2 separate regions of the Homo sapiens genome follow, and region 2 is linked to region 1. Evidence: fine-mapped expression QTL. A gene starts in region 1. The other region holds a variant in brackets. All regions are shown on one strand. Distances are between the middles of the regions. Region 1 holds the start of C1QTNF12 (C1q and TNF related 12). Region 2 holds the start of SCNN1D (sodium channel epithelial 1 subunit delta).

Evidence for each region.
Region 2: its variant is fine-mapped to the expression of C1QTNF12 in whole blood (TOPMed, PIP 0.95).

What each region holds. Positions count from the first base shown.
Region 1 is chr1:1,238,216-1,253,374 of GRCh38, reverse strand. C1QTNF12 (C1q and TNF related 12) reads left to right here and starts at 6,653. Exons shown (of 8, transcript NM_001014980.3): 1 at 6,653-6,861; 2 at 8,878-8,994; 3 at 9,100-9,184; 4 at 9,270-9,421; 5 at 9,823-9,931; 6 at 10,223-10,313; 7 at 10,462-10,540; 8 at 10,729-10,922. The coding sequence starts at 6,685. The coding sequence ends at 10,827. RefSeq lists enhancers at 1,942-2,221, 5,148-5,928, 5,929-6,710.
Region 2 is chr1:1,270,566-1,285,518 of GRCh38, reverse strand. SCNN1D (sodium channel epithelial 1 subunit delta) reads right to left here and starts at 5,083. Exons shown (of 18, transcript NM_001130413.4): 1 at 4,853-5,083; 2 at 4,222-4,293; 3 at 3,909-4,108; 4 at 3,204-3,277; 5 at 1,429-1,541. The coding sequence starts at 4,857. It overlaps LINC01786 (long intergenic non-protein coding RNA 1786), which reads right to left and starts at 11,517. Exons shown (of 3, transcript NR_185846.1): 1 at 11,038-11,517; 2 at 10,220-10,716; 3 at 4,912-6,451. UBE2J2 (ubiquitin conjugating enzyme E2 J2) reads left to right here and starts at 11,665. Exons shown (of 7, transcript NM_058167.3): 1 at 11,665-11,853. RefSeq lists silencers at 2,159-2,359, 11,031-11,080, 11,241-11,820 and enhancers at 10,181-10,819, 12,010-12,517, 12,518-13,024, 13,025-13,533. The variant C/G (reference allele first, on the strand shown) is at 4,318.

The sequences.
Region 1 (15,159 bases):
ATGATGGAGCCACCGCAATCCAGCCTGGGCAGCGAAGCCAGACCCTGTCTCAAATGTCGTCTAGATGTGAAATCTCAACTTTGTTTTTTTGTTTTTTGGAGACAAAGTCTTGCTCTGTTGTTGCCCAGTGTGGAGTGCAATGGTGCTATCATGGCTCCCTGTAACTGCAGGGTCCAGCCCTACTGGGCCTGTGGGTTCTTCTTGTGTACGGAGAGATGTGAGATCATAGAAATAAAGACACAAGACAGGGATAGAAGAAAAGACAGCTGGGCCCGGGGGACCACTACCACCTAGATGTGGAGGCCGGTAGTGGCCCCGAATGCCTGGCTGCGCTGTTATTTATTGGATACAAGGCAAGGGGGCAGGGTAAGGAGCGTGAGCCATCTCTAATGATAGGTAAGGTCACGTGTGTCTCGTGTCCACTGGACAGGGGGCCCTTCCCTGTTTGGCAGCCGAGGCGGAGAGAGAGAGAGGACAGCTTACACCATTCTTTCTTCTATGTATTTCAAAGACTTTTAGTACTTTCACTCATTGTGCTACTGCTATCTAGAAGGCGGAGCCCGGTGTACAGGGCGGACCACGAAAGCAGACCAGGAGTGTGACCGCTGAAGCACAGCATCACGGGGAGACGGGCCTCTGGATGGCTGCGGGTGGGCCTGACTGATGTCGCCTTGCACAAGAGATGGTGGAGCAGAGTCTTCTCTAACTCCCCCGGGGAAAAGGAGACTCCCTTTCCCCGTCTGCTAAGTAACTGGTGCCTTGCCAGGCGCTAGCGCTACCGCTAGACCAGGGACCCCTCTGGTGGCCCTGTCCGGGCGTGACAGAGGGCTCACACTCTTGTCTCCTGGTCACTTCTCACTATGTCCCCTCAGCTCCTATCTCTGTATGGCCTGGTTTTTCCTAGGTTATAGTTGTAGAACAGAGATTATTATAATATTGGAATGAAGAGTAATGCTAGAAACTAATGATTAAGAATATTCATATATCATCACATCTATAATCTATTTCTAGTGTAACTATTCTTATTGTGTATATTTTCTTTATTACACTGGAACAGCTCATGCCCTCGGTCTCTTGCCTCGGCACCTGGGTGGCTTGCCGCCCACATGTAACGGTGACCTCCTGGGCTCAAGGGATCCTCCAAACTCAGCCCCCTACATATCTGGGACCGCAAGTGTGCGCCACCATGCCTGGCTAATTTTTGTATTTTTTGTAGAGATGGAGTTTCGTCATGTTGCGCAGGCTGGTCTTGAACTCCTGAGCTCAAGGGATCCACCTGCCTCGGCCTCCCAAAGTGTTAGGATCACAGGCGTGAGCCACCGCGCCCGACTAAAATCTCAACTTTTTTTTTTTTTTTGAGACGGAGTCTTGCTCTGTCGCCCAGGCTGGAGTACAGTGGCGTGATCTCTGCTCACTGTGACCTCTGCCTCCTGGGTTCAAGTGATTCTCCTGCCTCAGCCTCCCAAGTAGCTGGGATTACAGGTGCCTGCCACCACACCCAGCTAATTTTAAGTAGAGACGGGGTTTCACCATATTGGCCAGGCTGGTCTGAAACTCCTGACCTCGTGATCTGCTTGCCTCAGCCTCCCAAAGTGCTGGGATTACAGGCGTGAGCCACCACGCCCAACTGAAATCTCAACTTTTAGCGATCATCGGTCAAGCAGTGAAGGTGGTGCCCGTGGCATGTTGTCCGCACTGGCCCAAAATAAAAAATGATGTTTGGGCCGGGCGTGGTGGCTCACTCCTGTAATCCCAGCGCTTTGGGAGGCTGAGGTGGGCAGATTACCTGAGGTCAGGAGTTCGAGACCAGCCTGGCCAACATGGTGAAACCCTGTCTCTACTGAAAATACAAAATTAGCCGGGCATGGTGGCATGTGCTTGTAATCCCAGCTACTCAGGAGGCTGAGGCAGGAGAATCACTCGAGTCCAGGAGGTGGAGGTTGCAGTGAGCCAAGATCGTGCCACTGCTCTCCAGCCTGGCTGACAGAGTGAGACTCTGTCTAAAAAAAAAAAAAAAATGATGTTTGGCCTGTTGGGCCGGGCACGTCTGACCCTCTGTCCCCGTCTCCCTTAGAGGAATCGTGGGCCCCTCTGTTCTTGTGTTGTCACCGGTGGAGGCCGTCCTTGACTTCCCCCTGGGAGCACGGTGTGTCCCCTCGCCATGCAGAGCACACTGTGAAGTCTTTTAATGAGGAGAGAAAAGCCCCTTAAAAGTTGATATTCTGCAGACAGGTGAGCACGTGGCCTCGTGGTCACAGGAAAGAAGAGGCGTTTCCTGTGTTCTGGCAACCTCGAGCTTCTCTGTGAGCGCATGCCCAGGCCTGCCTGAGTGCTGATGAACCAGCCGGCACAGCAGAGCACTCCGGGTCTGAGGGAGCTGCTCTCCCTGCAGCAGGCGGCTGGGCAGGGCACCGTGGTCCTTTGCCATTTTTCCAGGGCCGGGGGGTGTCAGGGTGTCTGCGTTGGGGGGTGCAGGGGGTGAGCAGAGCCAGCAGCTGCACCTGAGCCTCCCCTTGTGAGCAGCTCGTGGCTGTGGCCCAGGGTACCCTGGATCCTTGGTGGGTGACCCAGAGGGTGGGGTCCTCTTGGTCGTCTTCTAGAGGGAGCATGGGGGCTGAGTGTTCCTGCCTGGGTGCCAGGCTCAGCTCATTTTAAAGGTGCCTGGGGTTGGGAACACGAAGCCACATCCTTCCCAGTTAGGCCCAGCCTCCCAGGGTGAGGGCAGCAAGTCACCCAGGTGCCGAGGGAAGAGACCGAGGGCACAAGCTGTCCCAGTGTAACAAAATATATAAAATAAGAGTTATACTTGGTATAGACCATATGTGTCACTAATCATTAGTTTGTAGTAATTATTCTTTATTCCAATATTATAATAATCCTCGCTCTATAATCATAATCTAGGAAAAACCAGGCCATACCGAGATAGGAGCTGAGGGGACATGGTGAGAAGTGACCAGAAGACAAGAGTGCGAGCCTTCCGTTACGCCCGGACAGGGCCACCAGAGGGCTCCTTGGTCTAGCAGTAACGCCAGCGCCTGGGAAGGCACCCGTGACCTAAGCAGACCGTGGTCTAGCGGTAGCGTCAGTGTCAAGGGAAAACACCCGCTACTTAGCAGACTGGGAAGGGGAGTCTCCCTTTCCCCGGGGGAGTTTAGAGAAGACTCTACTCCTCCACCTCTTGTGGAGGGTCAGGCCCACCCACAGTTATCCGAAGGCCTAACCGTCTCCCTATGATGCTGTGCTTCAGCGGTCACACTCCTAGTCCGCCTTCACGTTCCATCCTGTACACCTGGCTTTGCCTTTTAGATAACAGTAGCAAAATTAGTGAAAGTACTAAAAGTCTCTGATAAGCAGAAATAATGGCGTAAGCTGTCTCTCTCTCTCCCTGGCCCCTGCCTTGGCTGCCAAACAGGGAAGGGCCCCCGTCCAGTGGACACGTGACCCACGTGACTTTACCTATCACTGGAGATGGCTCACGCTCCTTATCCTGCCCCTTTGTCTTGTATCCAATAAATAACAGCGCAGCCTGGCATTCGGGGCCACTACCGGTCTCCACATCTTGGTGGTAGTGGTCCCCCGGGCCCAGCTGTCTTTTTTATTTCTTTGTGTTGTATCTTTATTTCTACGATCTCTCATCTCCGCACACGGGGAGAAAAACCCACAAACCCTGTAGGGCTGCCCTCTACACCAGGGCTGCCCGTTTTCCTGCCTGTAGGGCAGAGGGGGAGGCCCAGCCTCCCTCGGTCTAGCCTCCCAGGGCTGCCCGTGTCCCGGCCTGTAGGGCGGAGTGGGAGGCCCAGCCTCCCTCGGTCCAGCCTCCCAGGGCTGCCCGTGTCCCGGCCTGTAGGGCGGAGTGGGAGGCCCAGCCTCCCTCGGTCCAGCCTCCCAGGGCTGCCCGTGTCCCGGCCTGTAGGGCGGAGTGGGAGGCCCAGCCTCCCTCGGTCCAGCCTCCCAGGGCTGCCCGTGTCCCGGCCTGTAGGGCGGAGTGGGAGGCCCAGCCTCCCTCGGTCCAGCCTCCCAGGGCTGCCCGTGTCCCGGCCTGTAGGGCGGAGTGGGAGGCCCAGCCTCCCTCGGTCCAGCCTCCCAGGGCTGCCCGTGTCCCGGCCTGTAGGGCGGAGTGGGAGGCCCAGCCTCCCTCGGTCCAGCCTCCCAGGGCTGCCCGTGTCCCGGCCTGTAGGGCGGAGTGGGAGGCCCAGCCTCCCTCGGTCCAGCCTCCCAGGGCTGCCCGTGTCCCGGCCTGTAGGGCGGAGTGGGAGGCCCAGCCTCCCTCGGTCCAGCCTCCCAGGGCTGCCCGTGTCCCGGCCTGTAGGGCGGAGTGGGAGGCCCAGCCTCCCTCGCTCCAGCCTCCCAGGGCTGCCCGTGTCCCGGCCTGTAGGGCGGAGTGGGAGGCCCAGCCTCCCTCGCTCCAGCCTCCCAGGGCTGCCCGTGTCCCGGCCTGTAGGGCGGAGTGGGAGGCCCAGCCTCCCTCGCTCCAGCCTCCCAGGGCTGCCCGTTTTCCTGCCTGTAGGGTAGAGTGGGAAGTCCAGCCTCCCTCGGTCCAGCCTCCCAGGGCTGCCCGTTTTCCTGCCTGTAGGGCAGAGTGGGAGGCCCAGCCTCCCTCGGTCTAGCCTCCCAGGGCTGCCCGTGTCCCGGCCTGTAGGGCGGAGTGGGAGGCCCAGCCTCCCTTGCTCCAGCCTCCCAGGGCTGCCTGTGTCCCGGCCTGTAGGGCAGAGTGGGAGGCCCAGCCTCCCTCGGTCCAGCCTCCCAGGGCTGCCTGTTTTCCTGCCTGTAGGGTAGATTGGGAAGTCCAGCCTCCCTTGGTCCAGCCTCCCAGGGCTGCCCGTTTTCCTGCCTGTAGGGCAGAGTGGGAGGCCCAGCCTCCCTCGGTCTAGCCTCCCAGGGCTGCCTGTGTCCCGGCCTATAGGGCAGAGTGGGAGGCCCAGCCTCCCTCGGTCCAGCCTCCCAGGGCTGCCTGTTTTCCTGCCTGTAGGGTAGAGTGGGAAGTCCAGCCTCCCTTGGTCCAGCCTCCCAGGGCTGCCCGTTTTCCTGCCTGTAGGGCAGAGGGGGAGGCCCAGCCTCCCTCGGTACAGCCTCCCAGGGCTGCCTGTGTCCCGGCCTGTAGGGTAGATGGGAGGCCCAGCCTCCCTCGGTCTAGCCTCCCAGGGCTGCCCGTGTCCTGGCCTGTAGGGTGGAGTGGGAGGCCCAGCCTCCCTCGGTCCAGCCTCCCAGGGCTGCCCATTTTCCTGCGTGTAGGCCTGAGTGGGAAGTCCAGCCTCCCTCAGTCCAGCCTCCCAGGGCTGCCCACTTTCCTGCCTGTAGGTCAGAGTTGGAGATCCAGCCTGTTCTGTCTAGAGTCACAGGGGAGCTCATTGCCAGTGGGTGACAGAGAAAATTTGGATGCCCTGCCTGTGAGGAGGGGTCTGGTAGCCCTGGGCGGGGGGTCTCCTTGGCCAGGGCACCTGCCCACCCCTCCCTTTGCCCCAAGCCTGGATTGAGGGGTGTTGGGGCTGCCTTTCCCGACCCATGCTAGATGCAGGCCACATCCAGGGCTCACCTGCGGGGGTCCAGCAGGGCTGGTACTGTGTGGGCGCTGTGCCGTGTCCCCAGGGTCCTCCACCACCTTCACGAGCGGACACGGGGCCGGGAGGCTTCCACAGTGCTCTCTGGAGATGCCAGTCAGTGCCTGAGAGCCCGGAGGGCGAGGGGGCAGCCGGGGTCCCTGGTGGGTTCCCAAGCGTCATCCCCATCCCAGCCTGGTCTCCCGTGGCTCTGCCTGTGGATGTGGCCTGGGGCTGGGGTTGACGCTGGGGTCTCGGCGTGGCTACCTTCGTGTCTGGCAAGAGGGGAGGGTCTGGAGTGTTCCGAGCTGTCCATCAGGGCCGGCATGTTGACCTTGGGCCACTGTTAGCCTCGGCCAGGACCAGCGGCTGGAGGGTCTTCCAGCCCCACCTGGCCACCCCATTCCTCCAGCCACTGAGCCCAAGGGGCCTGTCGCCATGATCTGGCCTCACCTTTCCCCCGAGTGGGGCCCCAGCGAGGCCGGCCAGCACCCCCAGGACCCTGGGCCGGGGCCGTGAGTCAGGGCGGGGCACCCGGGGGAGCCTGGGTGAGGAGGTCGTGGGAAGGGGCTGGGGCTTTGGCTGGCTGGTAGCTGCCCTCCGGTGGCTGGCTGCAGAGGCTGCTGTGAGGGGAGCCAGGTTGAGTTCAGCTGGCAGGGAGGGCGAGGAGGTAGGCTGCTGTCTTCACGGTTCCCAGAATGAGGTGGACCTTTGGGGAAGCAATGGGGGCAGGGTGGGGTCTGGGGACGGGAGGCAAGAAGCAGCGGCCGGGGTCAGTGGGGGTCTCCGCCCCGTCTCCGTCCCTGGCCGTCGGGGCGCCCGGGCGGCTGGCTGATCGTCCGAGTGTGAGCCCCCACCCTGGAGCCTGCGAGGTCTGGGGAGGAGGAGGCGAGGGGAGGATTTACTGGGCGGCGGAGTGAGGAGGCCAGAGAGGACGGGGGCTGGGAGCGGGGGCTGGAGCGGGACCCCGGGGGGACCTGAGCGCCGTCGCGCCGCCGTTCCGGGCAGGTCCGCGCAGACATGCAGCGGCGGAGGCCGGGCGCGCCCCTGGGCCTCGCCCCCGCGCGGGGGCTCTGAGCGCCGGCCGTCCCCATGACTGCGCCCTGGCGCCGAGACTCGCCGCGCTGAGCCGCCTCGGGACGGAGCCATGCGGCGCTGGGCCTGGGCCGCGGTCGTGGTCCTCCTCGGGCCGCAGCTCGTGCTCCTCGGGGGCGTCGGGGCCCGGCGGGAGGCACAGAGGACGCAGCAGCCTGGCCAGCGCGCAGATCCCCCCAACGCCACCGCCAGCGCGTCCTCCCGCGAGGGGCTGCCCGAGGCCCCCAAGGTACGCGGCCGGGACGCACGTGGGCCCTCGCGGGGCAGCTTCGGAGCTGGGGCTCTGGGGCGTCCTCCCCCAGCAGGCTCTGTCCCTGCCGGCTCTGCCTCCGGGTCGCCCTTTTCGAGGCCTCGGCCACGGTCCCGCCTTGAGAATCTGCTGCAGCCCAGCCAGGCCGGCCTCTGGGAAGCCCTCTCCTCCTCTGCAGCGGAGACCTGGCCCCCAGCTGGCCTGGGGTGGGTGGGTGAAGGGGGCTTCCCGCGGTTGGGGGCCGCAGTTAACCCTTTGAAGCGTGGGCCTGCCGCGCTCTGAGGAACCTGTTGCTATTAGGTTAATTGCTGATTTGGGGGCGGGGGTGGGGTGGTTCCGGCTGCTTGCTGGATGGTTCACCAGACCCCTTGGGAGTCCAGCGCCCCATGACTCCTGCGGCTGGAGACGCCATGGCGAGCCTGTCCCTTGTGCTTTCTGGGGGTCCTGTGTAGCTAGCACCCCCTCTTGCGGGTTAAGTCCTGGGGCCCCAGTCAGGCCGGGCGTCCTCACAAAGACAGAAGGCCCCAAGCCCACCTCAACCCTGGGCTTCCTCTCTCCTGCTCAGGGTCTCTCCAGGGGTCTTGGAGGGCAGGTCTTGCTGCCGCCGTCGTGGGCCCCAGGACTGGGAGGGGAGCCGCAGTTGCCAGAGCAGCCCCCATCCCCGGCCCTCACACCTTTGATGCTGGTCTCCCTCCTCCCGAGGGCGTCTCTGCTGCAGCCAGCCCGGCTGCCTCTCAGCCCACGCGGCCCCGCTGGAGCCCGAGGTCCCGTTTCCCAGATGGGAAGGCTGAGGAGGGTTGAGGCCGCGGCTCTGCCAGCTCAGGAAGAGTGGGCTGGTTCCCGGCGCTAGGGCCAGGCTGGCAGTGCTGGCAGGGGCGGGGCAGTGGGGGGGTCTTCAGCAGTCCGGGCCAGTCCCCCTGGAAGGGAGGGGGCACCCCACTGCCCAGGGCCACTCCTCCAGAGACCCTGCAGGGTGGCGGGCCTCCCTCAAAGGGTGCCGGCTGGAGGGCTGTGAGGTGTGTGCTCAGGCTGGCCCTCCAGGCTTCCAGGGTTGGGCGGTTCTCCTGCAGCCTGCTCTCTGTTGCCTCTGGCTCTCAGCCCCCAGATAGGCTGAGGTACAGGCCCCTCCAGGGCGCCGGGTCCCTTCAGCACATTGCGGTGGTGGTCAACAGGACAGCAAGCGGATAGCGGATGCCTGAGGAGTGGGGGAGGAATGGGGGGAGGAGAGGGTAGGGTGGGGGGAGGAGGGGAGAGGTGTGGGGGAGGAGGGGAGAAGAGTGCGGGGAGGAGGGGGAAGAGTGGGGGGAGGAGGGTGAAAAGTGGGGGAGGAGGGGGAGTGGGGGAGGAGGGAGATGAGTGGGGGAAGGAGTGGGATGAGGAGTGGGGGGAAGGAGTGGGATGAGGAGTAGGGGGAGGAGGGGGGAGTGGGGGAGGAGGGGGATGAGGAGTGGGGGGAGGAGGGGGAGGAGTGGGAGAGGAGGGCAGAGGAGTGGGGGAGGAGGGAGATGAGTGGGGGAAGGAGTGGGGGAGGAGGGGAGAGGAATGGGGAGGAGTGGGGGGAAGAGGGGGAAGAGGAGGAGGAGGGGGAGGTGGGAAAGGAGGGGAGAGGAGGGAGATGAGTGGGGGAAGGAGTGGGATGAGGAGTGGGGGGAGGAGGGAGATGAGTGGGGGAAGGAGTGGGATGAGGAGTGGGGGAGGAGGGAGATGAGTGGGGGAAGGAGTGGGATGAGGAGTGGGGGGAGGAGGGGGAGGAGTGGGGGAGGAGTGAGGGGCTCAGGGCATCAGGCTCTGGCTGTGTCCACAGAAGCCCCGCATGCCTGCCCTGCTGGTGGCATTGGGACGTCAGGGTTCTGACTCCCCCAAGGGCGGCCGTGGGTCCTTCTCCTGGCCGGCGATGCCTTCCCTGGTTCTGCCCTGAGTGCTCCCCGCTGCCCTGGGGTCCCAGCTCTCTGCAGGGTGCAGCCTCAGTGCGCTAGCCCCGTCCCGTCCCTTCAGCCATCCCAGGCCTCAGGACCTGAGTTCTCCGACGCCCACATGACATGGCTGAACTTTGTCCGGCGGCCGGACGACGGCGCCTTAAGGAAGCGGTGCGGAAGCAGGGACAAGAAGCCGGTGAGCCCCGCCCGGGCTGCTGCAGGGTCTGAGCCCCGGACAGGGTGTGGTGGTAGCTCCCACCGGGTCCCACTGGGCCCCTCACCTGCTTCTCTCTCCCCCCAGCGGGATCTCTTCGGTCCCCCAGGACCTCCAGGTGCAGAAGTGACCGCGGAGACTCTGCTTCACGAGTTTCAGGAGCTGCTGAAAGGTCAGCCGCCCTGCACTGCCCAGAGACCAGACGTGCCTGGGCCCTGTGCTGACCCTGCTGGCCGCCTGTGCCCTCCTCCCCACAGAGGCCACGGAGCGCCGGTTCTCAGGGCTTCTGGACCCGCTGCTGCCCCAGGGGGCGGGCCTGCGGCTGGTGGGCGAGGCCTTTCACTGCCGGCTGCAGGGTCCCCGCCGGGTGGACAAGCGGACGCTGGTGGAGCTGCATGGTTTCCAGGCTGTGAGTGGAGCCGGGAGCTTAGAGCGGGGTGTTGGGTGGGGCCCCACAGGCAAGACGGGACCACACACACCGCCTGACACTCATGGGGCAGCATGTGGGTTGGGGGCTGGGGGCGGGGCTCGGAGGGCGAGGGGCTGCCTCGGGTCAGGGTTGGGAGGCCCTGGGGGCCCAGATCACACTTTATGCCCAGACGGAGCGTGGGTCCCCGGTAGCCGGGAGGCAGGGAGACCCTCCTGGGTGTGGACTCGAGGGTCAGTCCTGCTGGTGCCCACAGTGAGCGTGAGGGTCCCGGGAGAGCTGCTCCGAGTGAGGGGCTGTCGGTTGCAGGCACCTTCCCCAGGCGGGGTCTGTGGGGTGGGGGCCAGGCCCTGCGCTGGCCGCTCACCCACTGCCCCTCACAGCCTGCTGCCCAAGGTGCCTTCCTGCGAGGCTCCGGTCTGAGCCTGGCCTCGGGTCGGTTCACGGCCCCCGTGTCCGGCATCTTCCAGTTCTCTGCCAGTCTGCACGTGGGTGAGCCGGATGGGGCAGTGCCGTGTGCTGTGACGGGGCTGGGGCTGAGCTTTCTGGGGGCGCCTGGCATCGCCGGCCCCGGGTGCGGGTCCTGTTAGGGACCTATCCCCTGCCCCATGGGGGGCCTTGGACTGGGCATGGGGTCCCTGCTGCACGCCTGGCCTCAGGCGCCCCCTCCCCAGCCCCAGCAGCCACTCCTGGGCCTGTCCTGGGATGTGTGCCCTGAAGCCCCTCCCCACCAGCCCCCACCCCGCCCCCCATGCACCACCCTCCCCAGGGCTCTCTCCGCAGACCACAGTGAGCTGCAGGGCAAGGCCCGGCTGCGGGCCCGGGACGTGGTGTGTGTTCTCATCTGTATTGAGTCCCTGTGCCAGCGCCACACGTGAGTGACCTCAGCCCCCGCTCCAGGCGGCAGCCCCCGGACCACCCTTGGAGGGGCTCACAGGCCACAGGGGTCTCTGGGCACTGGAGCAGGTCTTGGCCCCCTGGACCTGCAACGCCTCCCTCTTGCCCTGTGGGGCTGTGTTCAGGTGCCTGGAGGCCGTCTCAGGCCTGGAGAGCAACAGCAGGGTCTTCACGCTACAGGTGCAGGGGCTGCTGCAGCTGCAGGTGAGTCCGGGCCGGGTGTGAGCGGGAGGGCTCGGGTGCACTCGGGCTGGGCCGGGTGTGAGCTCGGTGCACTCAGGGCGCAGACCTCTGGGGCCTCGGCACCTCCTAGCGCAGGGCAGGTGGGCAGACGTTGGCCACCGAGTGGCTGGGCTGTGGCTGCGGTTGTGACGTCCCCGTGCTTCTTACAGGCTGGACAGTACGCTTCTGTGTTTGTGGACAATGGCTCCGGGGCCGTCCTCACCATCCAGGCGGGCTCCAGCTTCTCCGGGCTGCTCCTGGGCACGTGAGGGCGCCCAGGGGGGCTGGCGAGGAGCTGCCGCCGGATCCCGGGGACCCTCCTACTGATGCCCGTGGTCACCACAATAAAGAGCCCTCCACCCTCCCCACTGCCTTCGAGTGCTGCCTGGATGTTTCACTGGGGGTGGAAGCCAGGCTGCCGAGGTCGGCGGGAGATGGGTGGGGGCAGAAGGGTGCTGTTCACAGGGGAGCCCGGTAGCTTGGGGTATGGGCCGTAGAGCCTCCCTCGGGGCCGACTTACCTGGCCCGGGATTATGGTGATGGCAAGAGGCTGGGCGCTGCCCTGGTAGCCCCTGCAGGGGCCACGTCGACCCTGAGGACAAGGACCACTGTCCGTGCCGGCCCCACTCAGCTCTGCCCACGGCCTGTCCAGCCTTGGGGGAGCAGCAGGCCGTGGGGCACTGGAAGCCCCAGAGGTTGGAGAGCAGCACTGTTCTGGGCCCTCGGGAGGCCTGCGTCCTGTGGGGGGCTCTGTGCAGGGCAAGAGGACGTGCATGCCACACACGGGACCGCGTGCTTGCATGTGCTGGCCGCCGCAGGCGTGTGGAGCTGAAAGGCACCCCTGCGGGCTCAGGTGCGCCCAGACCGTGCCGTGCCCGGGGCACCCAGGTGGAGCAGGGCTGGAACCAGCAGGCTTCTCCTCGCCTGCTCTCGGTATGGCCGCACTCTAATGACCAGGGCCTCTCGGGGGCCTTAGGGGCCAGAACTGCCCCATGGAGGGTGGGGTGGGCCCCATATGTGACCATCATGCTGCTGCTCCCTGGCAGGTCCTGTGGATTTGGGCCCCACCCCCACCCCATTTTGGCTCTGGCAAACCCACACCAAAGAGTGTAAACTGGCCTCAGGACGTCCAGGCCTCTGCTGAGCTGCGGAGATGCCATCTCTGGTTGGCATCCAGAGCCCTTAGTCGCTGGTGGGGTTGGGGAGGTTGGAAGAGGCCAGAGCCCACGGCTGTTACCCCTCCCCTGGGACCTGGAGCTGCCGGGGCTGGCACAGAAGGGGCCCTCCCCAAGGCTTGCTGGGCAGTGAGGCGGGACAGCCCAGCCCTGCGACGAGGTGTGTGGGCAGGCGCCAATCGGCACGAGGTGGGCTTGGGTGGTGACCCGTCCCCACCTCTCTCCCTGGGCCCCCCAGAGTGGCGTCAGGGGCTGGGGCTGTCTGGAGGGGCCTCTGCTTCACTTGCCAAGGCTGTGGCCCCGGCTTAGGGGCTCCTCTCTGCCCTCAGCACCCCTTCTGTGGGCACGGCCTGCCCCCTGGGGCCTGGATCTGGAACGGGGGGTCTCCCTTCTGCAGCCCCTGCCCTGCTTGGCCACAGCACTCAAGAGTGCTCCCTTCCAGAGAGTCGGGCAGCTGTGCATCTGTACAGGGGGAACCAAGGTTGTGCCGGGCCCTCCTGGAGCTGGGTCAGCGGGGACAGCAGTGTGGGGGCCCTGAGGAGGCAGAGGCAGGAGCGTGGCCTGCACCTTCCTGGTTGGCGTGAGCCCTGGGCTGCGGACTCCCCTGTTTGCTTCCAGTTTTCAGTGGCTCCTCCCCAAACTGACGGGCCAACCCTGGGCAAGAACGGGCTGGGGGCAGGCACCCAGGATCAGGCAGCACCCAGCCAGGCCTTTCTGAACACCGCCTGGGGCCTCACCATCCGGGAATGGGGGCCCTCTAGGTTCTTCAGCAGCAGCCAGTCCCCCACCCTACCCAGTCCCGGAGGTAGGAGCTGTGATGACAGATGGACATGCCAGAAATGGGACCCAGGGCCGCGTAGAGCAAGATGGTGATGAGAGACAAAGAGACGTGGAGTGGTGGGGCGGGGGGCCGGGGCTGAATGAGTTGGGGGCCAGGGCCCGGGTGAATGGGGGCGGCGGGGGCTGGGGCAGGGACCACGGCCGGGGTGAATGAGGTGGGGGATGGGGGCTGGTCGGGGGTGGCTGGGGGCTGGCATGGGGGCCAGGGTGAATGGGGGGGGCTGGGGCCAGGGTGAATGGGGGGCGTGGGGATGTCCTGGTGCTGGCACCACCTCCCTGGCCTCTGCCTCCTGGTTTCTGCCCCAGTGGGAGGTGATCAGCCACTTAGCCGCAATTCCCCTGGAATGTGCCATCTCTAGCCCCCTCTGGGCACCCAGGAGCAAAGGAATGGACAGGTCGGGGTGGGGTGGGCGGCCTCACAGGAGGGTCCAGGCTCCCAGCCCACCCAGCCAAGGCTCCATCCTCTGGCCCAGCCCAGCTGCACCCCTTCATTCTCTCTCAGCCTCACCTCCTGGGCTGGACCCACACTGCAATGTTTGCCATAGAAGGGACCCTGGACTCTTGACGAGGGTGGGAGATGCCTGTCACTCACCCAGCCGGAGCGTGGGGTCCCCGGGGCAGGTGCAGGCCAGCCAGAGCTGCTGTTGCTTGGGGTCTGGGCTGGCTGGGGGACCTGGGGAGCCCAGGGAAACGGATCTCTTCAGGCCTGTGCCCCCCGGTTTGGGAGCTGGGGTATTGAGTGTCCCAAGCGTCTGGCAGCTTCGTGGACCCTGGCAGGAGCAAAGCCAGAGCAGCCGGCTACGTGCCGGACGGCCTCAACCCGACCCCTGACCCCTGACCCTTGACCCCATGCCCTGAGCGGCAGGGAGCTGCCGGCTTCTCCGTGACCTCCACCAGGGCTGACTTCCCAGAACCGCAGGCCGACCCTGCTGCCTGGCCGGGGCTGGGGGCATCGGACACTCCTGCCGTGGGCTCCCTGCCATCCTGGGAGGGGCCATGCCCGGTGCGGGGACACTCCCCCCACCAACCCTCCAGCTCGTCTGCTCACAGGACCAGCCCTTCCCTAGAGTCCCAGCGCTGGACCTGCCTGACCCACCCTGCCCCGGGGCTGCCTCGGCTGGGTCGGAGCCAGTATTCCCAGCCCTGGTGCTGTCCTGGTCTTGAATGGACAGAAATGCGGACGGGAGCTCAGGGCAGCCAGGAAGTCCTCTTGGGGCCAGGTGCGGCAGCCACCCTGAGGGGGCAGCAGGAGCCAGGGGAGGCAGGGCTGGGGGCTCCTGGCTGTGAGGAGGAGGCTGGGCCCCGCTCCGGCCCCGCCTGTCAGGTGTGGACACCATTGCCCATCCGTCCCCGGTGCCTCAAGGGCCCCACTGTTGGGGTACGTAGGAGATGCGGCTGCCCTGGCCTGGCCCCTGGGGGCGCCTGGGTGTGGACCCTGGGGCTGCAGCCAGGACAGGCAGGCGCTGGAGGCCCAGCTTTGGCATCTTGTCTTCGCATCCTTCTCCCCGCCTCTGTCACCCCTGCCGCCCCTGCCGCCCTGCAGCTGGGAGGGTGTCTGCTCCAAAGGCCCCTCGGACTGCCTGCCAGCCTCTCTGGAGTAAGCCCAGGGCGTTCCTGGGGCCTGTCCCAGACCCCAGACCACACCACACCTGGTGACCACTGTCATCTGGGCCTTGGAACAAGAATGGCCTGGGGGCATGTAGGGGCTGTGTAGGGTCCAAACAGACCTGCCTGCCCTGCTTTGTAAAAATCTATGTACCCAGGTGCCCCGTGTTGACCCCGGGTTGACAGTTGTGTGTCCCTGCGACTGGTGCGTGTGTGCCCACGTGTCTGCACATCTGTGTGGGTCTCTGCCCTGGGACTGGGACTCTCTACAGAGCCAGCAGCACGGCCCCCTTGAGAACAAACCCAGAACAGCCGTCCAGGACCCCGGGCCCGAGCGCTTGGCTGGCCACTCAGTGCCTGGAGCGGGCGTGGCCGGGGTCCCTGGCGTCCGGGAGGCCACATAGCTTCGGTCCTGCCAGGGACAGCAGAGGGGCCCATGGAGCTGTGACGGCTGCTTCGGCATGTGGGGCTCCCTGAACTGCGTGAAGGGGTCCAGGGACGGGGCTCCCACCCTCAGCTGGGGGCTGCTCAGCGCGCTGTCCCAAGGGGAAGCTCTTTCCTGCCTGCAGAGCGCTGCCCTGGGATCTGCTGTGCTCCGACGCCGCTGGGAGCTGGAGCTGGGGGCAGAGCTCGGCGCCGCGTCCTGGGGCCGTCGCTCACGGGCTGGGCTTGGCCAGTCTGTGCTTGGACTCCCAGTTCAGGTCACTCTGAGCTATGGTGACCTCAGGGCCTGTCCCCCAGGGGTCTCCCTCAGCCTGACCCTGACCCAGGAATGGCAGCGTGTCTGGTTGCGGGAACACGCCCTGGCCCTGCCTGTGCCTGCCGAGCCACCGGCGTGTCTGTCCGCCTGCGCATCTGACTGCTGTACAGGTGGGCCTGGCACCAGAGGCCTGGGGACAAAGGGTCTTTGTTTGGGAGGCTGGGGGCAGCCCCTGCTCTGGGCCAGTGACTCACGGGTGCCCGGGCGTGATGATATCTGTG
Region 2 (14,953 bases), 32 kb before region 1:
GGCTCAGGGGAAGACTTGCCCTTCTTGCCCCTGATGGCTGCACCCACCCCAGCCCCCAGTGTGGCCTGCTGAGGACCGACTGTGCCAGGCCCATCCAGCCAAGTCCAGGAAGCGTCTGGCCTGGACACCGCTCGGCACTGTGGCTCGGGGTGGCCCCATTGAGCTGAGTACCGGGGCCAGCTGCGGAGACACAAGGGCCCCAGGAAGCCCAGCCACTGCCTGCCCAGTCCCGCGCTGGAGGCTCTGGAGTCCTGGGACAGGCCTAGCTCTGGTCTGCGAGGCTGTCCCGCTGCCCAAGCCTGCTCCGAGGTACTCTGGGGAGGTGCTAGAGCGAGCCAGAAGCTTCGGGGCCTGGGGACACCAGGTGGGGACGGCTCCCCTCGGGTGTGTGGGCCGCACAGGCCTCCAGGCAGCCTGGCCAGGAGCTCCACCACTGGGCACATGGCTCTGCTCACCCTGCGTCCCCAAGGCCATCTGAGCAGGGAGGCTAAGAGGCTCGGAAGGGTCTTTGTGACTCCAGTCCCCACTCCTCGTCTCCACCTGGCGCATAGACAGGGCAGCACCATCCCCCTAGTGGGGGCTGCCAGGCCAGCAGAAGCGGGAGCTGTGGATTGGGGTCTGGAGGGCCAGTCAGGGTCCCCAGGGCTTCTGAGTGAGGCAGGGCCTGGACCCCTGGTCAGAGAGGAGCCGGACCCCACCCTGCATGTGCGCGTGTGTGTGAGACAGGACTACACTGGCCTCTCCACCCTGTCTGGATCTGCGTCGTGCCATGTGGCCAACCCACGGGATGCACAGCGCCTGGACACGCAGTATCTGCAGTGTTCTCCCGGGGTCTGTCCAGCACACGCTATGCACCCCCAATGGTCCAGCACACACTGTGCACCCCCAGTGGTCCAGCACACGCTCGGCACCCCCCGTGGTCCAGCACACGCTCGGCACCCCCCGTGGTCCAGCACACGCTGTGCACCCCCCGTGGTCCAGCACACGCTCGGCACCCCCAGTGGTCCAGCACACACTATGTACCCGCAATGGGACACAGCCTTCTTCAGGATAAGGAGGCACTCAGGGATGACCTGCCCCATTGCCACCATGCAATCCTGTTCCTGATGGCACACGGGGCCAGGCATCGGAAAGAGACCCCCCAACCCAGCCCCTGGTACCTCAAGGTGGGAGCCCCCCCGCCAGCCCCACCCCCCCACCCCTACCCCCCACCCCAATCCCCCCACGGTACCTCGAGGCGGGTCCCCCCAACCCCAACCACCACCTTGGTACCTTGAGGTGGGGCCCCCCAACCCCAACCCCCTCATCCAACCCCCCCAACCCCCTCACCCAACCCCCCCAACCCCCCCACCCCCCTCACTCAACCCCCCCCCCGACCCCACCCCCCTCACCCAACCCCCCCACCCCCCTCACCCCCCCCCACGGTACCTGGAGGTGAGAGCCCCCCCGTGTGGCTGCTTCCATTCTCCCGTCCATGCTTCGGTGCTCAGCCATTGCGGGGGCAGCTGGCAGCTCTGAAGCAGGATGGAGCCTCTGGCCTCCTATTTAAAACAGGCTGGCTGGGCGTGGGACTGTGCTGCAGGCGAGGGAGGACCCAGCCAGGGCAGCCACACCTGCCCCGGACCCAAAAGGGGAATTCCTGGGGGACAGAGATGCCCATCCCTCTGCAGGTGAAATCTTTCCCATCCTGAGCCCTGCAGGGGAGGCCTGGGGTCCTGACCCTGGCTGAGAGTAAGGGGCTGCAGCCTGTGGAGGGAGGGGGAGGACAGTGTTGGGCTGAGACCTCCTTGGAAGCCCCATCTTTCTTTCTTTCTTTTCTTGAGATGGAGTCTCACTCTTGTTGCCCAGGTTGGAGTGCAATGGCACGATCTAGGCTCACTGCAAGCTCCACCTCCCGAGTTGAAGCAATTCTCCTGCTTCAGCCTCCTGAGTAGCTGGGATTACGGGCACCTGCCACCATCCCAGGCTAATTTTGTATTTTTAGTAGAGATGGGGTTTCTCCATGCTGCTCAGGCTGGTCTCAAACTCCCAACCTCAGGTGATCCGCCCGCCTTAGCCTCCCGAAGTGCTAGGATTACAGGCGTGAGCCACCGTGCCCGGCCCAGAAGCCCCATCTTTCTCTGCCAGCTCCTGGAACTCAGATCCGGGGCCGTGGTGGGCTCCCAGCACTCCCTCCCTTCCCTGGCTGACAGACACTGGGTGGGGACCTCAGCTCCCAGATCCAGTGTCTCTCGGGACCAGCCGCCCAGCCATTGGGACAGGTGCTAATGTGGGAACACCAAGGGTCTGGGTGTGGAGAAGGCACCTGCTCCCCCGAGTAGGCACAGGGGCTCGCCCTCCCTGCTGGACACTATAGCTGCCACCAACCACACCACACACTAAGATGACGCGCCACACACTAAGACTTTCAGTCCACACCCACACCACACACACCAAGATGCTGGCACACATGGAAGTGACTCACGACCACCAGGCGCGGTGGCTCACGCCTGTAATCTCAGCACTTTGGGAGGCCGAGGCGGGCGGATCACAAGGTCAGGAGTTTGAGACCATCCTGCCTAACACGGTGAAACCCCGTCTCTACTAAAAATACAAAAAATTAGGTGGGCGCGGTGGCAGGCACCTGTAGTCCCAGCTACTGGGGAGGCTGAGGCAGGAGAATGGTGTGAACCCAGGAGGCGGAGCTTGCAGTGAGCCGAGATCGTGCCACTGCACTCCAGCCTGGGCGACAGAGCAAGACTCCGTCTCAAAAAAAAAAAAAAGAAAGTGATTCACAACACACTAAGACCCCACACATGCTAAGACCACACACGTATGCTAATACCTCACACACGCTACGACCTCACACACACTAAGACCACACACGCTAAGACCTCACACATGCTAAGACCACATGCTACTGTCAGGGTCCAAATCACAGTCTCCCAGGCTGGCGTCTTCAGCCCCAGTGCGGTTGTGTGGAAGGCAGGTGTCCCTGTCCCCCAGGACCACCCCATCCCTGTCTACTGTGGGACCCTAGATATCCAGGTGGCCTCACTGTCCCAAATGACCAGACCCGAGCCGGGCCCAGGTTGGAAGGGTAGGCTCTGTGTTCCTGACATCCTGCCCCAAGTGGTGCTGGGTCCCTGGGCTTGGCTGGGGGAGCCCAGCCCCACAGGGTCCAGCAGCAGAGCCATGGCTCTGAGGAGGGTGAGGTCACCTGCCTGCCGGCTCTGGAAGGAAGCAGCTGCCACCGGTGACGTCCTGGAGAGGAAAGCCATGCTGGAGTCACCCAGGCCTGTGTGAATCACAGCTTCGTCACTGGCTGTGTGGCCTTCCCGAGTTACTCAACCTCTCTGAGCTGATTTCCTTGAGTGCCAGATGGGGCTGGGGTGCCTCTCCAAGCTCGCGGCAGGGGGCTTGCTGATGTCACAGAGACCCCACAGGTCAGCGGCAGGGCCCCCGGACACAGCACAGGCCTGGGGCTTCTCCCCCACCACATCTGGGCAGCTTTGTGCGTGGGCCGCACCTGCCGAGGAGACAGGGCACACATGGCCCGGGCGGCTACTTGGCAGGCGGGGACAAGGTCCTAGGTGCTTGCCAGAGATTGTGGCTGGAAGCAGCCTGTGCCTCCCTGTGTCCCCGGGAGTGGCCTGGCAGACAGCCCAGCCTTGGTGCAGGGTGCAGAGAGAGAAAGAGCCCAGGTCCGGCCAGTGGGGCCCGGTCCAGCCAAAGGGCAGCTTGCAGGAGCAAGGCCCCCGGCTTCCTGTAGGAGGGGGAGCCCTGGCCGGGGGCAGAGCACCCCTTCCATGACCCGTATGCCCTGCAGGGCCTCAGTCAGAGCACATCTCGGCTGGATCACGCAGCTCCCGGCTCCACCCCCCTCCCCTCCTCCCGGGCAAGGCCTCTAAGGGCTGAGGTTCAGTCACCTGTCCCACACCCCTGTATCGGGCCAGAGAGTAGGCAGAGGGGGTAGCCACAGAGCACATGTCCAGCACTGGTGAATCCACATGGTCCTCCCCCTCTTCTGGGCCATCCCCTCGCTGGCCCGGTGCAGGGGGTGGGGTGGGGCGAACCCAGCTCCCGGCATGTGGGGGTCCTGTGGTCACTGCACCATGACCAGGTGAGCCTGAATGAGAGAAGGGACGGGCAGGCATCCCTGGCTCCCTTTGGGCCCATGCCTCTGCTCTCTCCCAGGAAAGACGGCCAGGCCCCATTGACCGAGCATGGCTGTGAGCTCACCTCCTTGGGCCGCTGAGGTGGCCGGGCCACAGGTAACGAGGGAGCGGTGTTGTCTTCTGTGACAGCACTGCCCTGGAGATGGCAGGCGCCTGGCAT[C/G]TGTGGGACCCCAGCCAGGACCTCCTATCCCAGAGCCCCGTTTCCTCCCCTGGGGTGAGCGTCCCCCACTCAGGGTCACTCTGAGTCAGCCCTGGGACGGTTCTGGTGCAATAGACAGGCAGCCCAAGGTCGGGATTCCCGTGGGCATGGGCAGGCCAGGGGTGGCCTGGGGTCCCTCTGGGGTCCTGCACCCAGGCAGGTGAACAGCCTCCCAGGCAGAGCCCCCTCGGCCCCGGGCATCAACTGCACTGTCCAGTGGAGCCTCCGCAGAACAGGCACTAAGGTGGCACCAAGGTGCCCCCGGCTGCTGGCCTGGGTGGGTGCTGAGGGTGGGAGTGTGGAGCTTGGGGTCTGGCCGGTGTCCCCTGCTGGGAGGAGTAAGGTGCGTGTGGGCTGCCTTCTAGGTTCCCTCATAAACCAAAAATAAAATTATAAGCCCTGAACTGTCTGGATGGACCCCTGGTCTTAGCCATGGGCATTCCAAAGTTAACCTGAAAAACTAGCTCAGCTGTGATGGGAAGGGAGTCGGACGCACCTCATGCCTCCTCCCTGCTGGAATTCAGGCACAGCATCAGCATCACCTCAGGCCTTGAGTCTGATGAGAAGCATTTATAGTTGATTCTCTCTGAGGCTTGTGACCTGGTGGCTTCATCTGCGATAAGACCTTCATCTGCACAACGCCATACTGTAACCAGACATTCCCTTCTACTGATAACAACTCTTTTTTTTTTTTATTTATTGAGATGGAGTCTCGCTGTCGCCCAGGCTGGAGGGCAGTGGCGCGATCTCGGCTCACTGCAGGCTCCGCCCCCCGGGTTCACGCCATTCTCCTGCCTCAGCCTCCTGAGTACCTGGGACTACAGGCGCCCGCCACCACGTCTGGCTAATTTTCTGTATTTTTAGTAGAGACGGGGTTTCACCGTGTTAGCCAGGATGGTCTCGATCTCCTGACCTCGTGATCCGCCCACCTCGGCCTCCCAAAGTGCTGGGATTACAGGCATAAGCCACTGCGCCCAGCCTAATTTTTGTATATTTTTTTAGTAGAGATGGGGTTTCACCATATTGGCCAGGCTGGTCTTGATCTCTTGACCTGGTGATCCGCCTGCCTCGGCCTCCCAAAGTGCTGAGATTACGGGTGTGAACCACTGCGCCCGGCCACCTTTTTCTTAAGACAAGGAGAACGACTCCCTTTTGGGTACCCCATTTGGTTTCTAGCTCGGACGTGCGTTCCTAAGGGTCTTCTCTGTTGCTTTTTCTCCCAAAATTAAGCCCAACTGGCTTGTGCGTGCATTTGCATGAGGAACTGAATTGTTCTTTGCATAGATAAATGAGAGACTGAGTTTTCTCAGCTCCAGAAAGAAAGGCATTTTGCTCCTCCCAGCTGAAAGGCGCCCCTGGGTGACTGTGAGCCAAGTGGGAGTATCTCGTGGGCTGATCCCCCACGACGTGCAGCAGCCCCACAGGGAACCCCCCAACACAATTAGTTTAAAAAGGTTTGTCTGCTGGGTGCAGTGGCTCACGCCTGTAATCCCAGCACTTTGGGAGGCCGAGGCGGGTGGATCACGAGGTCAGGTGATCGAGACCATCCTGGCTAACACGGTGAAACCTCGTCTCTGCTAAAAACACAAAAAATTAGCCGGGCATTGTGGCGGGAGCCTGTAGTCCCAGCTACTTGGGAGGCTGAGGCGGGAGAATGGCGTGAACCCGGGAGGCAGAGCTTGCAGTGAGCCGAGATCGTGCCACTGCACTCCAGCCTGGGCGACAGAGCGAGACTCCGTCTCAAAAAAAAAAAAAAAAAAAAGGTTTGTCCAGGAAATGCACATAGGAGCTGGTCACTCTGTGTTTTGAGTCCTCTCGGAGGTGTTGGACTTCTAGAGAGAGAAACAGAGACACGTAAGAGGGCGAAGATGCCTCAGTGGTGACACACTGGGGAGTCCCGCCCACGACCCGTCCACGACCGGCACACTCAACCTGCTCCACGGAACCCCATTCCACAGCTCGGTTCCTCTGCGCCCCACCTGCTCCACGGAACCCCAGTTCCTCCATACTCAACCTGCTCCACGGAACCCCAGGCCACAGCTCAGTTCCTCCGCGCCCCACCTGCTCCATGGAACCCCAGGCCACAGCTCGGTTCCTTTCAAGAAAAAAAAAAGTGGGAAATAAATAATGTAAGCCTCAGCAAAGACAAGAGGGCGACCTCCTTCCAGGCACCCCGCTGGTTTCAGGCGCCTCTACCTGCAAGTGTTGGTATAAAACTGAACATGTCGCGGGCATGCTGGGTTTCCTAGTGCCCCAGCTGGTTCCATATTATGGTCTTTTGGGGCACATTTTAAACTGATGGGCAAATTCCATCCAGGAAAAATTCAGAGCCCAAAGGTCAGCCTGCAACTACAGAACCATAGAGTTCCTGGCCAGGCGCAGTGGCTCACGCCTGTAATCCCAGCACTTTTGGAGGCCAAGGCGGGCGGATCACCTGAGGTCAGGAGTTCGAGACCAGCCTGACCGACAGAGTGAAACCCCATCACTACTAAAAATACAAAAATGAGCCGAGCGTGGTGGCATGCACCTGTAATCCCAGCTACTTGGGAGGCTTAGGCAGGAGAATAGCTTGAATCTAGAAGGCGGAGGTTGCAGTGAGCTGAGATCGTGCCATTGCACCCCAGCCAGGGCTGCAAGAACAAAACTCTGTTTCAAAAAAAAAAAAAAAAAAGAACTATAGAGTTCCTAAGTTCTCTATCTCTCTGTTTCCTTTGCTGCCTGCCTTAAAGCTGCTGTTACACTTTTTGTTTTTTTTAGGTAGAGTCTCACTGTGTTGCCCAGGCTAGAGTGCAGGGGTGCGATCTCGGCGCACTGCAAACTCTGCCTCCTGGGTTCAAACGATTCTCCTGCCTCAGCCTTCCAAGTAGCCAGGATTACAGGTGTGCGCCACCACGCCTGGCTAGTTTTTGTAAATTTAGTAGAGACGTGGTTTCACCATGTTGGCCAGGCTGGTCTTGAACTCCTGGCCTGAGGCAATCCACTCACCTTGGCCTCCCAAAGTGCTGGGATTACAGTTGTGAGCCACCGTGCCTGACCAGCTGTTACTTTTCTACTGAGATGACATCCACAGTTTGCATCTAGATGTTTCTTTCTGTTATTGTTTTTCTAACTAGTGACTTTGTGTTGATATGTCATGGTTAGAGGTGTAAAGCAAAAGCTGTAGGGTTTTTGGATGAGTGTATATGTGTGTTTAGATGTGTTTATGTGTACGTGCGTGGATTCTGATACATGTTTTGTGGCCACAAGGTATCAAAGTGGCTTAAGGAGTATGCATACATTTAGTACATAATAACAAATTTCATGTGACTTAAGTAAAAAATTTTTTTTTTTTTGAGACGGAGTCTCGCTCTGTCCCCCAGGCTGGAGTGCGGTGGTGCGATCTGGGCTCACTGCAAGCTCTGCCTTCTGGGTTCAGGCCATTCTCCTGCCTCAGCCTCCCGAGTAGCTGGGACTACAGGCGCCCGCTACCACGCCCGGCTAATTTTTTGTATATTTTAGTAGAGACGGGGTTTCACCATGTTAGCCAGGACGGTCTCCATCTCCTGACCTCGTGATGTACCTGCCTCGGCCTCCCAAAGTGCTGGGATTACAGGCGTGAGCCACCGTGCCCGGCCAAAAGTATTGGTAAAGTAATATAAGGAGTGTCTTAAAAACTGTCAGCATACATTTTTGTTTGCATTTATTGATTTATAAGGGGTCAAAACTTGGCATAAGCATTGTAAAACTCTAAACCCAGCTGAAGGCCAGGCATGGGGACTCACACCTGTAATCCCAGAACTTTGGGAGGCCGAGGCAGGTAGATCACCTGAGATCAGGAATTGGAGACCAGCCTGGCCAACATGGCAAAACCCCGTCTCTACTGAAAAATACAAAAATTAGCCAGGTGTGGTAGCACATGCCTGTAATCCCAGCTACTTGGGAAGCTGAGGCCGGAGAATCACTTGGACCTGGGAGGGGGAGGTTGCAGTGAGCCGAGATTGCACCATCGCACTCCAGCCTGGGCGACAGAGTGAGACTCCATCTAAAAAAAAAAAAATTATAGGAAAACGTTCTTTCTACAAAAATTCTTATTATAAGGTAAATAATTTTGTCTAATTCAAAGCTTATTTAAAGTTTATGTATAAAATGAGTTAAAAAGAACAAGGAAATAAGAGAGACCAAGGAAAGTTATAGATATAAAGAGGTCTTTTTGTTAAGTAAGGTTAAAAAAAATAATTTTATATGAGAAAGAATCTTGTATGGTAAATTTTTGTCCTTAAATAAATGACTGGTTGTTTAAAAAAAGGGATGTTCAGCACAAACTAGAAAGTCCACATGTCGTGAACGGTCTGTGTAAGCTGCAATACCTTTGGTAAAAAAGGAATTTATAAAAATGTTACATGATAGATCGGGTGTGGTGGCTCATGCCTGCAATCCCAACACTTTGGGAGGCCAAGGAGGGCGGATCACTTGAGGTCAGGAGTTCAAGACCAGCCTGGCCAACATGGTGAAACCCTGTCTCTACAAAAATATAAAAATTAGCCAGGCATGGTGGTGCATGCCTGTAGTTCCAGCTGCTCAGGAGGCTGGGGCAGGAGACTCAATGGAACCTGGGAGGCGGAGGTTGCAGTGAGCCGAGATCATGCCACTGTACTCCAGCCTGGGCGACAGAGTGAGACTCCAACTTTAAAAAAAAAAATTGTTTTAAGAGGTAATGAATGCTGGTCCATGTCCATTCCTATCTGGCCTACAAAATTTAATGGGCTGTAAATCTTTTAACTGTAAGTCCCTGGGTCATAGGGAGTCAAACTGAGGGACAGGATTGACTGAGGGTGGGCAGCCACACTCGCCCAGCAACGCTGAGACACAATAAAGATTTGGTGGACATGGATGTTGCCTCTGGCAAATCTTGGCCAGAAGGGGGTGAATGTAAACCAAAAATTAAATTCTAAGGCCCCCCCAGCCGTCCAAATGGACCCTTCCTCTCAGCCAAGGGCGTTCCAGTGTTAACCTGGGAACTTGTTCAGGCCATGGCGGGAAGGGGTCGTGGGTCATGCCTCCTCCCTTTTGAAATTCAGGAAAAGCTGACTAGCATTAACATCAACACAGGCCTTAAGTCTGATAGGAAACATTAACAATCTATTCTCTCTGAAGCCGGCAACCCGAGGCTTCAGCTGCGTGGAAAACCACAACCCCTTACTGCAACCCAGACATTCCTTTCTATTGATAATAACTCTTTCAACCACTGTCGGTCAGGATCATTTTGAATCTGCCTATAACATAGAGGTCTCCCCACACCACCCCAATTTATCCTGCTCTTTCAGATTGAACCCGTGTAAATAAATCATGTCTCCCTAAAATGTATAAAAGCGAGCTGTGCCACATGCACCTTGGGCACCTCCCGAGATGTCATGGGTGTGTCCTTAACCTTGGCAAAACAAACTTTCTAAAGGGACTGAGACCTTCCTCAGTTTGCACCCTCCAGGCTGGGTTCTCTGTCCCTCAAGCATCCCCTGGCCAGACAATCCCTGCTGTTCAGAGGCAGCCAAGGCTTTCTGGTCCAACCCTGGGGGCTGGAGGAGGTGGGGGCAGGAGGTGGTAACTGGGTTGGGGGATGTTTTCTTGGTTGCCAAAGCAGAGGGTGCCCCCCGCTGCTCAAGATGCTGAGGGTGGTCCCTGTTGTCCTATTCCTGAAGCTGCCAGAGGAAGTCCCTCCGGAGGGCTGGCCCACAGCAGAAGGGCTGCTCCTGCCCTCAGAGGGCAATCTCAGGGTTGAGAAGGTTACAGCCACCATCTGCCACCAACCTAGCTGCTTGTGCCGATCCCACTGGCCAAGGCCATCGGCTCTATGGCTAGAGGCCTGGGCAGCCTGTGTCCTGCTTACCAGAAGGCCACAGATGCGGGTGGGTGGGGTGGTGGGGTCTTGGCAAGACGTGCTGGCCACACCTGTCCGGGGCACCTTCTCCCTGGGGTGTGACTCAGCCATGCTCCTGAGCAGGGGCCTCTGAGTTGAGCCTCGCTGCAGTCTTCCCAGCTGCAGGGCCCCCACAGGTGTGCTGTCATCGCACACTACTGAGGGACAGACAAGGCAGAGCGGGCCTCCATCTGCCGCGGGCCACAGCCGTGAGTGTGCATGCGAGTGGATGTGCTGGTGCCTGTATCTGCGGCCGGTGTGGCTTCCCTCACATAACTTTCCATGCTGTGAAAACAGTTTGGCCTGCCCTGCATGGGAACGGCAGAGGCCTGAGAGGAGGCAGAGGAAGGAGGCTGGATGCTGAGATGTTCTCCGAAGGTGGAGCCGGTGACGGCAGTAATGGAGGCAGGCTGGATTCCCACGGGCTGAGGCTGCGTGGACACTCCTCCTGGCTTCTGCCCCACGGCCTGCAGCAACGTCTCAGACCCACCAAGGTGTCCCAGAGGGCCAGAGTCAGGGCTGAGCATGGACACAGCCTGCCCTCTGCCCGTAGCCACAGCGGGACTGACCCTCAATATTCAGCCACCTTGCTGACCTGTGGTTGTTCCTGAGAGGCAGTCAGGGTTGGGGCAAAGGAGAGGGCCACAGGCAGCCAGGTGGCGAGGTCCACCTCCTGATCCCCCACCAGGGGACCACCCTCAGCTCCCCGCTGTCCTCAGCGGCCTCTCAGGGAGGCGGTGGGCTGCGCGCCTGCCCCCAGCGTCCCACCCCAGCGCCCCGCCACCTACCGCTCTCTCCCAATGTGTCTGGGGTCAGAGAGAGGTGGAGAGGACGCAGCGCCCCGCGCTTTCTGCAGTCTGTCCAAGGGGAGGTCAGGGGCATCCCGGGGCTGGGCAGGCACCTGCAGGGGAGGGTGCTGCGGCGCGGACGTGGGTTGCAAAGAGATGCCACGCGTGTCACTCTCGGGTCCCTGAACGAGAGAGCTCTGAGCTCCCTGGAGCCCAACCCTCCACTGAGCCTCCAGGGGCCCGGGACGCTCCATGCCCGGGCCGCGCCGCGCCTCCCCTAAGGGCCGGGTGGGGCGTGGGAGCGGAGGACAAGGCGGGAGCCGGGAGGCGGGAGGGTCGGGGTTCTTTCTCCACCGGGGTCGCCCTCAGCCGGGCCTGCCGCCCTGGGCCGTGGCACATGGGGAGGGAAGCGCGCGGCTTCGGGGTCTGGGGCTCTCGCGCCCACTAACGGTGCCCGGAGCCGCCCGCCAGTGCGCAAGCGCCGCCCCGCCCCCCGCCCCATCCCCCACCCCGGGGTCGACGGCGACAGAGAGTCGTGGGCGCGGTCCGCCAGTCTGCCTAGAGCGGCCAGCCCTCCCCCTCCCTCCTCACCGCCCCGGACCGCGCACCGGAAGCAGAAGCTAGGCTGGTTCCGCCCCGCGAGCGGCCATCTTGGAGGCTGAGGCGGCGGCGGCGGCGCTGCGGCGGGTTCGGTGGGCCCAATCCCGGGGCGGTGCGGCTGTTTCGGGCGCGGGCCCCGCTTTTCCGCACCCTGCTCCGGCCTCGACTACGGCGAGCCTGAGCGCGGCGGCGGCCCACGCGCAGCGACAGGGAGAGGTGAGCGCGCTCGCAGGCCTGCGCCGGGTCCTCGGGCCCGCTCGTCCCCCCTGCCGGAGCCGGCCACAGCGGCGGCCCGGGGCTGCTGGGGACCCTGCGCGACGCTTCTCCGTTCGCGCCCGCCGCCCGCGGGGCCCCGGCCCGAGCCTGCCTGCGCGGAACCCGAGGTCGGTTACGGCGGGCTCCCGGAGCTCCGGGTCAGGGTCATGTCGGGGACTTGACCACTCGGCCGGGTTTCCCGTCAGCTGGGACACTTGCAGCTGCCCCAGGACGGGCAGCCTCGATCCTGGTTCGTCAGTGGATCACGGGAGTCTGTGTCGGGGGAGGGCTGCCGTCGAGCCCGCCGTCGCCTCGCCCCTGAACTGTTAGACTCCAGACTGCCCCGTAAACCCCGAGAGAAACGAGCGTGCCCGGGACTGTGCTTAGGGCCAGCGTTTCTGGGAAACCCGGGCGGTGACAGTGGGAGACCACCGCCGGCCGGCGAGTGAGACACGAGCCCGGAACAAGTCTCTAAGCGGCGCCGGGCCTCGCCATCCACACCTGCCAGTTCCCTGCATCCTTTCAGCCCCTGGCCAGGTGTCACCTCCTGGCGTCCTTTTCAGTGCCTGCCACTTAGTGCGTGTGTATTTAACTCTAGTCCGGTTGCCATCCTCTTGCCAGACCCAGATAGGAAGCGGCTGAAAGGTCGGGCCTCAGCCCGGTGGGAGGTGGGCAGCGAAGAGTGTACAGCGGGCTTGGCTGGGGCAGGTCGGTGGCCCCGCGCCCTGCTCCAGGGGAACCAGACTGTGTAATCTGGCTTCCGAAGAAAGGATCGTGAGTATCTCGCTTAGTCTAGCACCTGAGCCTAGGGCGTGGTTGGGTCTGGGTGCCCGGAACTTGCAGTCCGTCATCTGCACGGCCTGGCACCGCTGACCTCCTTAGCAGTTCCACTCTCGGCAGGGATGTGCGTGAGTGACAGGCAGGTGAGCCAGGCAGGTAGGTGAGTGCTTGAGTGACAGGCAGGTGAGCCAGGCAGGTAGGTGCGTGGATGAGTGACAGGCAGGTGACCCAGGCAGGTGCATGTGTGAGTCGCAGGTGAGTGTCCCATTTCCATCGGCCCGGGCTTCCGTCCAGCCTCCGGAGCAGTCTGGTGGAGAAGGCAGAGACTTCCCTGGCAGTCCTGGACCTGGGTGTGCCATGCGCCTGGCCGATGGGTCAGGCCAAGGTTTCCTGCCACATCCCCTAAGCAGGAAAGAGCTGTCCAGACAAAGAGGGACGGGTGAGGGACGCTGGGCAGCCACTGCCTCAGCACCTGGGCACAGCTGCCCTCGGTGATTCACGCTGCTTTAATGCAGTTTCTGTGTGTGAACATTTTTTTTTCCTGTGCCTTTTTGTTTTAAAATCGCCAACTCTTTCTCTCAGCAGGATGATATGCTTGGTGTCCTTTGTCTGTGGGGATGTTTGAAGGGAACCCGAGGCACATATGCTTCAAACTCTGTTCTCACAGTTTGCTTCCTTTGTGGAATTTTTTTTTTTTGATACAGGGTCTCTGTTGGCCCAGCTAGAGTGCAGTGACATGATCTCAGTTCACTACAGCCTCCGGCTCCCGAGTTCAAGTAATTCTCCCACCTCAGCCTCCAGAGTAGCTGGGATTGCAGGTGCCCACCACCACACCCGGCTAATTTTTTTTTTTTTTTTTTTTTTTTTTTTTTGAGACGGAGTTTCGCTCTTGTTGCCCAGGCTGGAGTGCAATGGCTTGATCTTGGCCCACCACAGCCTCCACCTCCTGGATTCAAGTGATTCTCCTGCCTCAGTCACCCGAGTAGCTGGGATTACAGGCACATGCCACCATGCCTGATTAATTTTGTATTTTTAGTAGAGACGGGGTTTTACCATGTTGGTCAGGCTGGTCTCGAACCCCCGATCTCAGGTAATCTGCCTGCCTGGGCCTCCCAAAGTGTTGGGATTACAGGTGTGAGCCACCACGCCCAGCCCCTTTGTGAATTTTTGTTTTCCTTGTCCTTCCTGCTGTCATATTGGGATGAGAAGAATTGGGGGAAATAGCCCCCTGGCCTCCTGGGGGACGTGAGAATGCTGTTCTGTGTGAAGCTCAGGAAGAGTGGCTGGGGAAACAGCAGTTGAATCGTGAACATGATTTTAAAAGCCTCTCCAAGCAGGTATGGGAGAGAAGCTTGTTTGTGACTCATTGGATGGAATCTATTTTATTTTTGCGCGGCTGTCCATGAACTTTCGTTAAACCTGCGGCCTGGCCACTTAGCTAAGCCCAGACCCACCTGCACTTGAATTGTCCAGTGAATTATTTTGTATATGGCAGAGTGTTAGCTTCAGGGTGAGTGTCGAAAGGACAGCCTGTGTGGCGGTGCTGCTTGGGGTCATCACTGTGGCCATCACCAGGTGTTGGCCTGAGGGGAGATCCCTGGCCCATTGGCTTCTTTAGCCAGGAGCTGGGGATGCCACTGTGTGGAAGCACTTCCTTCCCAGGCAGGACTGTAACCCCATCCCTGGTGGGGGCCCTCCTGGGGAGGCACTCCTTAGGCAGAGGAACCCGCTGGGGCCCAGAAGGGCCCTGCGTTGTGTGTGGGGTCACATGGAGGCCAGTGATGTGTGACAGAGTGGGAGGCATTTGGCAGGGAAATCAGGGAGGCCTCTGAAGGCGGTGGCTCTGGCTATGCCGGGAAGGGCCTGGGGAGTTTCCAGTACAGGCTAGGCTGGGAAGCAGCTGTGAGAAGGAGTGTGTCGGTCAGGACTTTGGAGTGGGACCTGGGCCGTGCTGGGTCTTGGGAGTTGGGAACGAGGAGGGCTGGCTGGGGCTGCTCTGTCTTGGGAGCTGGGAATGAGGAGGGCTGGCTGGGGCTGCCTCTGTCAAGGGGCTGGCAGGCAAGAGGACGTGTTGATGTTTATTTGCTTGGCTGTGGAGTATCCTGAAGGGTGGATGGGGGAGTGGGTGATCGGAACAGTATGTTGACTTATGGGTACAGGAGGGCCTTGAAATGGGAAGAGACTAGAAGCTCAGACCTTCTGGACCCACGGGGGGAGTTGGGAGGCTCCTGTGGTGTTGATGGGAGAAGTGATGACATTTTGCGTTAGAGAAGATAATGAG